Linked DNA regions of Homo sapiens. The protein of the gene in region 2 interacts with the protein of the main gene of each other region in a biochemical or structural test. Each region holds a gene or a part of one and is shown on either strand. Other genes may lie near its edges. The genes, in order: CD1D and CEACAM5.

What was found.
Region 1: the proteins of CEACAM5 (region 2) and CD1D form a complex in vitro, tested with the Homo sapiens proteins (one large-scale study listed by IntAct).

Annotation. Positions count from the first base shown.
Region 1 is NC_000001.11:158,179,232-158,183,694, reverse strand, and holds the start of CD1D (antigen-presenting glycoprotein CD1d isoform 1 precursor), read right to left. Parts: upstream 2,801-4,463; 5' UTR 2,594-2,800; coding exon 2,533-2,593; intron 2,241-2,532; coding exon 1,974-2,240; intron 1,664-1,973; coding exon 1,385-1,663; coding exon of another isoform or gene 1,261-1,384; intron 818-1,260; coding exon 539-817; intron 1-538. UniProt on the Homo sapiens protein: Antigen-presenting protein that binds self and non-self glycolipids and presents them to T-cell receptors on natural killer T-cells.
Region 2 is NC_000019.10:41,707,024-41,711,613, reverse strand, and holds the start of CEACAM5 (cell adhesion molecule CEACAM5 isoform 1 preproprotein), read right to left. Parts: upstream 2,989-4,590; 5' UTR 2,883-2,988; coding exon 2,819-2,882; intron 1,935-2,818; coding exon 1,575-1,934; intron 1-1,574. UniProt on the Homo sapiens protein: Cell surface glycoprotein that plays a role in cell adhesion, intracellular signaling and tumor progression. Mediates homophilic and heterophilic cell adhesion with other carcinoembryonic antigen-related cell adhesion molecules, such as CEACAM6.

The DNA.
Region 1 (4,463 bases), on a different chromosome or scaffold from region 2:
TAGCAAGGCAGACCTGAATCTAAATCCAGCCCGTCCACTTTCTATGTGGCTCCGGGCAGTTAACCTATCTCCGCCTTCATTTCCTCATCTATATAACGAAAAGAGCAGTACTTGCTTCAAAGAAAACTGTGAATGATGAGATGAGATATTATATGCAGATTCATTGGCCCCTACACAGGGAGCACTCAACCAACCAAGCTATCTTTGCTAACCTGCCTTCCCAAAGGCCTGGCTCCCTTTAAGCCAAGGAATGAATCGTCCTGGGATTGTTTATTCGCTGCCTACTTCTGGATCCCTGAGTTTTGTAGTCTTGTTTCTTCTTGTATATAGAGAGCACTATTTCAATCCTTTTAGACTTTCAGGTCTTTATTTCCCTCCTTCCTGTGTCTGGAACCCCTCTCTCTATCCTTTTACTGGGGGCCTCATCTCTGAAACTCCTCTAACCTGGGTATATCAAGCCACATCCCACCCCAGTGCCTCCCTCTATGCCTGAGGACCACCTCCTGCCATTTCCAGCTTGGGCCCAGCTTTTTCTCACCCCAGTAGAGGACGATGTCCTGGCCCTCTAGACTGCTGTGCTTCACCCGACAGGACAGGCCAGCTGCCTCCCCAGCCACCACATCCAGGGTTGCTCGGAGATACCATGTCTCGTCAGCATTGGGCAGGATGTCCCCTGGCTGAGTGCCCTGCTGCTCCTGCTCACCCCGCATCCACTTCACCCATACAGGCTTTGGGTAGAATCCTGAGACATGGCACACCAGCAGCAGACGGCCAGGGCCAGGACTGGGGCCACGGGACAGCCAGGCCTTGGGCTTCACTGTATCCAACAAGGGAATGGGGGGGATCTTAAAGTGAAAACTCTGCATTAGAGGCTCCAGGCCTCATATCATCCTTTTTGACTTTCAGGTCTTTATTTCCCTCCTTCCTGTATGCCCCTGACATGTTCACTTCTGGAAATGAAGTCTCCCACAACTTTCAATCCATTTGTCCCACCTTCTTCAGGGAGCCTGCCCTGATACTCCTTCTTCTTCTCTGGTCCCAGCCTCCTATGAATGCCCCTTGTCTGTTCCCCTATAACACCCTTTGTTTTGAAGTAACATATGTAGCCTATTTCAAGCATTGCATTAATTAACATCCCCCTACCAAGCAGGGATCCTAACTAACTGCCTGACACCTTTCACCCCCAGTTGTTCATTAATTGAATTCATAGAACCCAAGAGGTGCTCAGTTGATGTCTGTGAAATGAATAAATACCCTCACCCCTTATCCAGCCCCTCCTGGGCCTTCCTCTTCTTTGAATGCTCAAAGGGATGAGAACCCTGGAATGGAAAAGCCCGTTTGGAGCCCTGAAGTGGAATGCAGGGAGTAAGGAAGGCAGGCTGACCTTGCTTCTTCAGTTCCGACTTCCCTGACTCAAGGAGGCCACTGACAAATTGGGGGCAGGTGCCATTAAGGAGCCACTGCACTGTTTCCCTCGTCCACTTGTCCTGGTTGAGCACTTGAATGGCCAAGTTTACCCAAAGTGGGGCCTCTTGGGTTGGCTCCCAAGAAGTTCCTTGGAAACTCAGGATATCTTTTCCTTGAAATGCTACATGGAAGAAGTTATTTGAGGCGTTCCCAGGGTGCACCTCACAGCCAGCGGACACCTGGAGCTCCAAGGGATCTGTGGAGAGGAATGGAGAAAGATCAAAGAAGGGTTTAAAAGACTGGGAGAGATGAAAGAGAAGAAATTGATGTGCAGGTTATAATGGGGACCCAGACTTCAGGGAAAGGAAAGTAAGTGACCTGGAGTAGGCAGGAACGAGGGACACTTTGAGGAGTCAAAGCCTGGGACATCTCCAGGTAGAAGGGAAATCAGAAGAGGGTGGACAGAGCAGAGAATCTCATCAGGTGGTGCCACAGTCTCCCAGTTGAGTTTCTGTGGCCATTCTCTCCCCTTGGGTACCGGCCCAGGATCCTATCCCTCAGCTCACAGGATAAGCGTAGCATTTTGGCGAATTCCTTCACGTCCCTGGTGAAGCTGCTTCGATAAACCCGAAATATATGCTGCAGCGTCTCCCACTGCTGGTCGCTGAACGTGCCCTGGGACCAAGGCTTCAGAGAGCGGACGGTGTCCGAGTCGTTGCTCCAGCTGTGCGTCTGCAGCTCCCCCAGCCACGCCAAGCCGTCGGTGCGCGTCCAGCTGCTATTGGCGAAGGACGAGATCTGGAGGCAGCGGAGGGGGAAAAGCCTTTGCGGGACTGGGAGAGAATGAAGATTGGAGGCGTGTAGCAAGTGGCCGGGAGAGCAGCCAGCATAAAGAGAAGGAAGAAAGAAACAAGAGGAGATGAGCTTCAGGAGGCGGCTGATGCCAGCGAACTCTGTGCCGCGCTGCCTCTCCCCGGAGCCAGGGAGCAGCGAGTTTTCTACCTAGATCGCGCCAGTGCGTCCCGGGTCTCACCAGTCCCCATCAGGCGTTGCCCTCCCCGTCCCTACCCAGCTCCCTCTCTCCGCCCTCCCGCGAGTGCACTCAAGCGCCCTCGTTCCACCCACCTTCAGCGCTTCCCCAAGCCTGGAGGAGCGCCCAGAGCAGCAGAAACAGCAGGCACCCCATATCGCCCGGCGTGGGGACCTCGCGGAGCGCCGCTGCGCGCCGCCCTCTGACCTGCGCACTCTTCTCCCCCGCCGCTCAGCTCACGTCCCTTTCCGCTGGGTGCCAGCCAATTCCCAAGCCCAGACCCCGGCAGCCCTCCTCGCTGGGCTTGCCGGCGGTTTGCTGCTTCTGCCGAAGGGCGCCCTCGCCCTTAGCTGTGCGAGCTGCAAAGAGGTCGGGGTCCCAGGAATCCTGGCGCCGCCGCTCACTTCAGTAGGTTTCACAACCGGCGTGTCTCAATTTCCTGTTTCAAAGGAGACTTTGGGTCAACGTGTGGGACGCTTTACAACCATTATTTATGTTTTGGAAGCAGGACATAAGGTTGTGTCTGTGTTACAATTCCAACCATGGTAAAAATGCAAAGGGAAAAAAGGATCAAAGTCCTTGCTTTAGCAGTACATGTCTCTAGGTGGAAAGACTATGAGTGATCTTAATTTGCTTTACATCTTTATGTTTTCCAAAATTTCTCAAGTGCAAGTACCACATTTACAATAAAGTAAACGCATGAAAATTAATTTCCTCAGTTGCACATTGAGAGAACTGGATTAGGTTGGCTACAATTCTTTACAACTGTCATATCCCAGGATTCCTCCACCTCAGTGTTCCCTAGCCTCTCTTTCCTCCTGTCATGGTCCTTGCTCTCCCCTCCCCGGCCTCTGCTCTGTCTTCCCTGTCTCCTTTTTGGGGACGCGCCCCCAGACTCTCTTCCTCCTCTCCGCCCTAGGCTCTGCCGGCATACCTTCTCCTCTGGCTCCTGACTCATTCACTTTCCAAATATGCGCCTCTGTCTTAAACAGTAAGTGTAAGATGACAGTGTGTACCTGGACAGCCAACTCGCCACTTCTCACACTGAAAATAAGAAAAAGTGACCAAAAATCGTGGTTCTAAGCCTTAGCTCACCTGGAGGAAAAGACTCCTCTTTGGCAACTCAGAACCTGGGCTGCAGCCTGACACCTCCCTCTCCCTCACTCTTTTTATCCAATCTATCTCCAACTCATCTCTATTTCACTTCTTTTTGAATACCTCTTGAATAAATTCCTTTTTCTATATTTCCACCGTCACCATCACCCTAACCTTTTGACTGATCTCCTGAAGTAGCATTCTTGGGTAGAAAACAAAATCATTAGCACGGCCTGCAAGATTATGCGCCCTCTAGCCCTGGTGTCTACCTTTTGACATCACCTCACACCCCAGCATCATTTGCTCTGTACTGTAGCCTGGCTGTTAGCTTTCAGTTCCTCCACTATGCAAAACCTCTTCCTGACTAAGGTCTCTGCACAAAGTTCCCTCTACATGAAAGCTCTTGACCTTCTCCTCACCTCACCCCCTCCCAATGCCTAGTTATTTCCACTAAGGTATCAGTTCCAAGGTCACTTTCTCAGGGAAGTCTTTCCAGATCTGCCAGACTGTGTGACCCTAGGCAGGAGAAGTAGGGCAGTCCCAACCTCCACTGCTTGTACACTAACTGGCTTTGAGAAGCCATCCTCTCAGCATGTAGCAGAGTTTATAATTATAGAAATGGCCATATGTCTGTCTCCCTCTGTGTCCTCTTCTAAATCAGCTGGAGAGGTGCCAGAAGGCAAGGATCATGTCTCCATAATCTGATTCCTCCCATTCTGCTAACGTTAATGTTTCCCTTCTCCCATATCCTGTTGCAGCAAGAGTCCTAGAGAAAATAGGCTACTGCACCACACTCTAGGCTGGGATCTTGTAGACAGCCCTAACCCAGCCTATCTAATTATGTGTAATTTGCCCAAAAAAGCTTAAAATAACATAGTAACGTGTTCTTGTAACAAATAAGGTGTTAAATTATTAAATTTGGATACAAAAT
Region 2 (4,590 bases):
AACCCTCCCATGGCCAAGGAACCCCAGAGTCACATGAGATAGGGTGGCTTTCGGGACAGGGGGTCAGAGGAATGGTACATGGATCTCAGCCCCTGATGGACACGGAACAGGTGTGGTCAGAACCTCCCAGGATTCTGCATCCAGGATCCAGTCTCTATAGAGGTTATGGATCATTCCTTCACTCATTCCCCCCTTCATGAGAGAGCTACTGAGCAAGCGTGTGTCTCACTTTGGGCCTCTGTTGGCACAGGGTGTGAGTGGGGAGAGAAAGCGAAGTCCTTTCCTTTATCCTTCCGTGGGAGTGACACTGACACATCGGGAAACACAGGATTTGAGGTCATGTGAGGGGGCTGTGGATCTCAGGGAGAGGCCTGGACAATCCCGGCACTGACCCTGACTGTTGAGGTGATCTAGTTCTAGAGTAAAACTGATTATTTCTCCATTTACTTATCACTCTCCAGACCAGAATCTCCGCTTCTGAGCTGTGGATGCCCAAGACAAAAGAACGCAAGCCCATGACTGGTCTCAGATGCAGATGCCTAACAACAAACAGCCCCACCCACCCCCAGTTGAGGAGAGGAGGGGGCTGTGGCTACAGACAGACCTCATGTGACTTCAATCTGACACCTATGGCCTGTGTGACCCTTGTTAGTGACTGTCTCCCTGTGCCTCAATTTCCTTTCAATAAGTAGGATAAGTGCTATTTGGCTGTGAGGTTGTTTGTGAATTAACCTCAAAATATTTACAATTACTTGATCTCAGCTCTGCACAGAGGAGCTGCTCAAATGAACATCATTTATGTTTATTTGCCTCCAAGAGAGAAGGCCCTGGGCCTGATCCCTGGTGGACAAGGAGCTGCCGGGAGCATCTTCTCTCCTCTGTTCCTCTTCCTGGGGACACTGAGCTTCCCATGGAGTCACCTATGTCCCCAGGGCAATGGACTGACACCCTAATAACCTTGTCTATCTATCCTCCCCACATTGAGTCTCAAGTAAAGGACAAGGCTCTGTCCTTGTCCAAATGAGACTCTGGGGACAGGGAACAAGTGTGGCCAGAAAGTCCGATTCTGCATCCAGAATCCAGCTCCAGGAGCCACAGCCCTTGGACAGCTGCTAAGTCCTTGCTTCCAGTTAGCCTTGCCCAGGAGGCCACAACACAGCCCTGGCACAGGCTCCCCTGAGTCACCTGGAACCAGGAGCCCTGGGGCTGAGCTTCTCTGTGAATATCCCAGGGGTCCCTCAGGCCAGGCTCTGATGCAGTTCTCCAGGGTCTTTCTCAGGGTCAGGTTTACGGGGAGGGCACGGGGTGCTTGGCTGAGACTGACCTCCCCCTGCTAAGTCCCCCACATCAGACTGTCCTTCCTCTGCAGTGAGTGTCTGCAGGGTCTGGATGCCGGAAAGGAATTCTGATCTGTTGAAGTTTGTCTCTTCTGTGTGTATCCTGCACTAAATGCCCAAACCCTAACATGGTGCGTAATGCAGAGGGGGCCACAGGCACAGCCCAGGCCTGATAATCCTGTGTGTGGGAAGTAGAACTGACCCCCAACACCCAGAGGTCATGGGGGAATCACTCACGGTATACCCGGAACTGGCCAGTTGCTTCTTCATTCACAAGATCTGACTTTATGACGTGTAGGGTGTAGAATCCTGTGTCATTCTGGATGATGTTCTGGATCAGCAGGGATGCATTGGGGTATATTATCTCTCGACCACTGTATGCGGGCCCTGGGGTAGCTTGTTGAGTTCCTATTACATATCCTATAATTTGACGGTTGCCATCCACTCTTTCACCTTTGTACCAGCTGTAGCCAAAAAGATGCTGGGGCAGATTGTGGACAAGTAGAAGCACCTCCTTCCCCTCTGCGACATTGAACGGCGTGGATTCAATAGTGAGCTTGGCAGTGGTGGGCGGGTTCCAGAAGGTTAGAAGTGAGGCTAGGAGAGAGCAGAGAGCATCGGTCAATATTGGGACCTATGCATTAGGGTGGAAAAATGGGGTCCTGGGTCCTGAGCAGGTCTCTTCATCCCCCAGCCCTGGAGTGAGTGAGTGTGTGTGTGTGTGTGTGTGTGTGTGTGTCCTACTAGGTCAAGGTCAGCAGTGTGTCTCCTATTTCCTTAGCACCTCTGACCTTGGCATTTCCCTGTGTGGAATCTGCTTTTCCAGGGGTCTTCACGGCTCCCTCCCCATTGCCTTCAGGTCCTGCTCACATCAGGGCATTCTTGGGAGATCCCTTCCCTGACACCTCCTCTAGAGACCCTGGGTCTTCCTTTTCTGACCTTTCCCTGCTCTATTCCCTCCAGGGCTCTTGTCAACACCTGACCTCACATTCTAGATCTCTTTGTATGTCTGTCTTCCTCCCCATGAGAGCATGAGCTTCATGAGGGCAGGGATTTGTGTGATCTTGGTTGCACCCCAGTGCCTGGGACAGGCTGCAGATTCCTGTGGATGAGTTCATGAGGGTTCCCAGGGCCCTCCACAGCCTGGGGCTTATTTTCCAATGTCCGCGGTAGGCGGATGAGGACAGTGTTTCATGCCCTGGTTATGTTTTTATTTAAAGTGTCATCTGATGCAGTTATTATGATTTTTAAAAACGTAGTGGCCAGTGACAATTAACTAGGAAAATAGAACTCTTGAGGTTTTCCTGCCCCTTTCCAATTCCAGTTCAATTTGATTTTTCTGGTGTGACTCCTGTCCCTCTCTGATGTCCTCTTCCCTATTCAGGCTCCAACAGGAGCCCTCTGTCCGTCTCACAGCCCTGTCCTACCCAGGAGACCCCAGCTCCCTCCTCCCACCCTCTCCCAGGTTGTCCTCCCTTCACCTGTGAGCAGGAGCCTCTGCCAGGGGATGCACCATCTGTGGGGAGGGGCCGAGGGAGACTCCATGGTCTCTGCTGTCTGCTCTGTCCTCCTCTGTGGAGAAGAGCTTGAGTTCCAGGAACGTTTTGTCAAGGCTGCTGTGACTGTCTGGTCTGCTGTCCTTCCTCCCTCTGCCCTGAGTCTCTTCCTAGGGCAGGAGTACTTCTCAGCATCACGTGGGTCATGGGTGTGGTCTTTATTCAGGTGTCCTCTGTCCCCTCCCCTCTCATTTCTGCCTCTTTTGTCCCTCCTCTTTTTTCCCTTCTATTTTCAGTTCCTCAGACAAATCTTTTCGGCAAGGTGGATGGACCCCCATCCCCTGGGAGGACAACCTGTCTTCCCCAGTGCTGACCTCTGCTGTGTTCTGTCCTTGGGTCTGTCACACCAGGGGGATTATTTTCCTTTGTGACAGAGAAACCCAGCAGGGTCCCGGGTCTCCCCATGCTCTCCAGGGCTCTGGGAAGGTGGGATGATGCCCAACAGGAAGGTGACAGAGGTGGCTCTGGGGGCTAGAAAAAGGCTCACTGGGTGGTGGCTGGGGAGGGACCAGCCCTCTGTCTCCAGTACCACCAACCCCGCCACTGACCCAGGGATGGAGACCCAGGCCCAGAGGTCTCAGGAGTCCCCAGATCCTGCATGTGGAGGGGGAGGTGTCTTGTGTGTCCTGGAAAGAGAGGACTGTGGTGGAGGGAGGTGGGTGACTCTGGGCTCTGCTGTCCTTGGGGAAGGCTCCAGGGGGACCCTCCCTCTCCGTGTCTGTTGGCTGAGCTGCGGCTCAGGGCCTGTCCATGTTCTCCCTGACAGTCCTGGGTGGTCTCTGTCCTCTGCGAGGCTGACTGTCCTGTGATCACCCCACCTTCCCCATGGTGGTACCAGGAGGGAGTCTGGAGTTGCACAGGGACCCCTGGCAGAACAGGGTCCTCATAGGACCCAGAAAGGAACAGAGCAGGTATGTGGGAGAGATCAGAAGGGTCTGTTGGAGCAAGGGATGGAAACCAGGCTCCACCTCCACTTCCTTAGCAAAGCCAGGTTCCTGTCCAGGGGAATCCGTTTCCTGAGTGATGTCTGTGTGCAATGTCACCCCCTGGAGGGCAAGAGGAGACCTCCGGCCTTGTCTGGAACTGCCCTAGGGATGCTGACCAGGGTCGACGTGGTGTGAGCTGACCCTGAACTCTGGATTAGGCTGCAGGGTCAGGCCGGAGGATCTATTCCCTGCAGGCCTCTGTCCTCCCTTCTGAAGCTCTGGGGGTTGAGGCCTCATTCCTGGGGCAGCCGCGGGCACTTGCTGGCCTCCTCCCATGCTGGTGCCAGTGCCCCTGTGTCCACATGGAACAGACTCTGACTGCTGGGGGCCACACGGAGGTGATATGCTTCTTTTTAGAGATCTCCCACACATTTAACCAGTATTTATGGAGCATCTGTTCCGTGTCAGGCACTGGGCTGGGCCCTGGGATTCCACAGAGAGCAGGACAGACGTGGTCCCTGTCACAGAGTTTTCCTGTAACCGGGAGACAGGCGCTCAGTGAACTTCATGGGACTGAGGAGTTAATGGTAATGACAGGGCTGTGAGGTGACAGCATAGGGGGCGTCGGAGCCTGTGAGAGACTGAGCTGTCCTGGAGATCACAGGGAGCTGCCCTGGGAGACGCCCTTTCAGCTGAGCCCGGGGAAGGAGGGGGTGTAGGGGACAGGAGCTGCCTGCAGAGGGCAGCCGACAGGCCTCAAGTGGGCGGCCG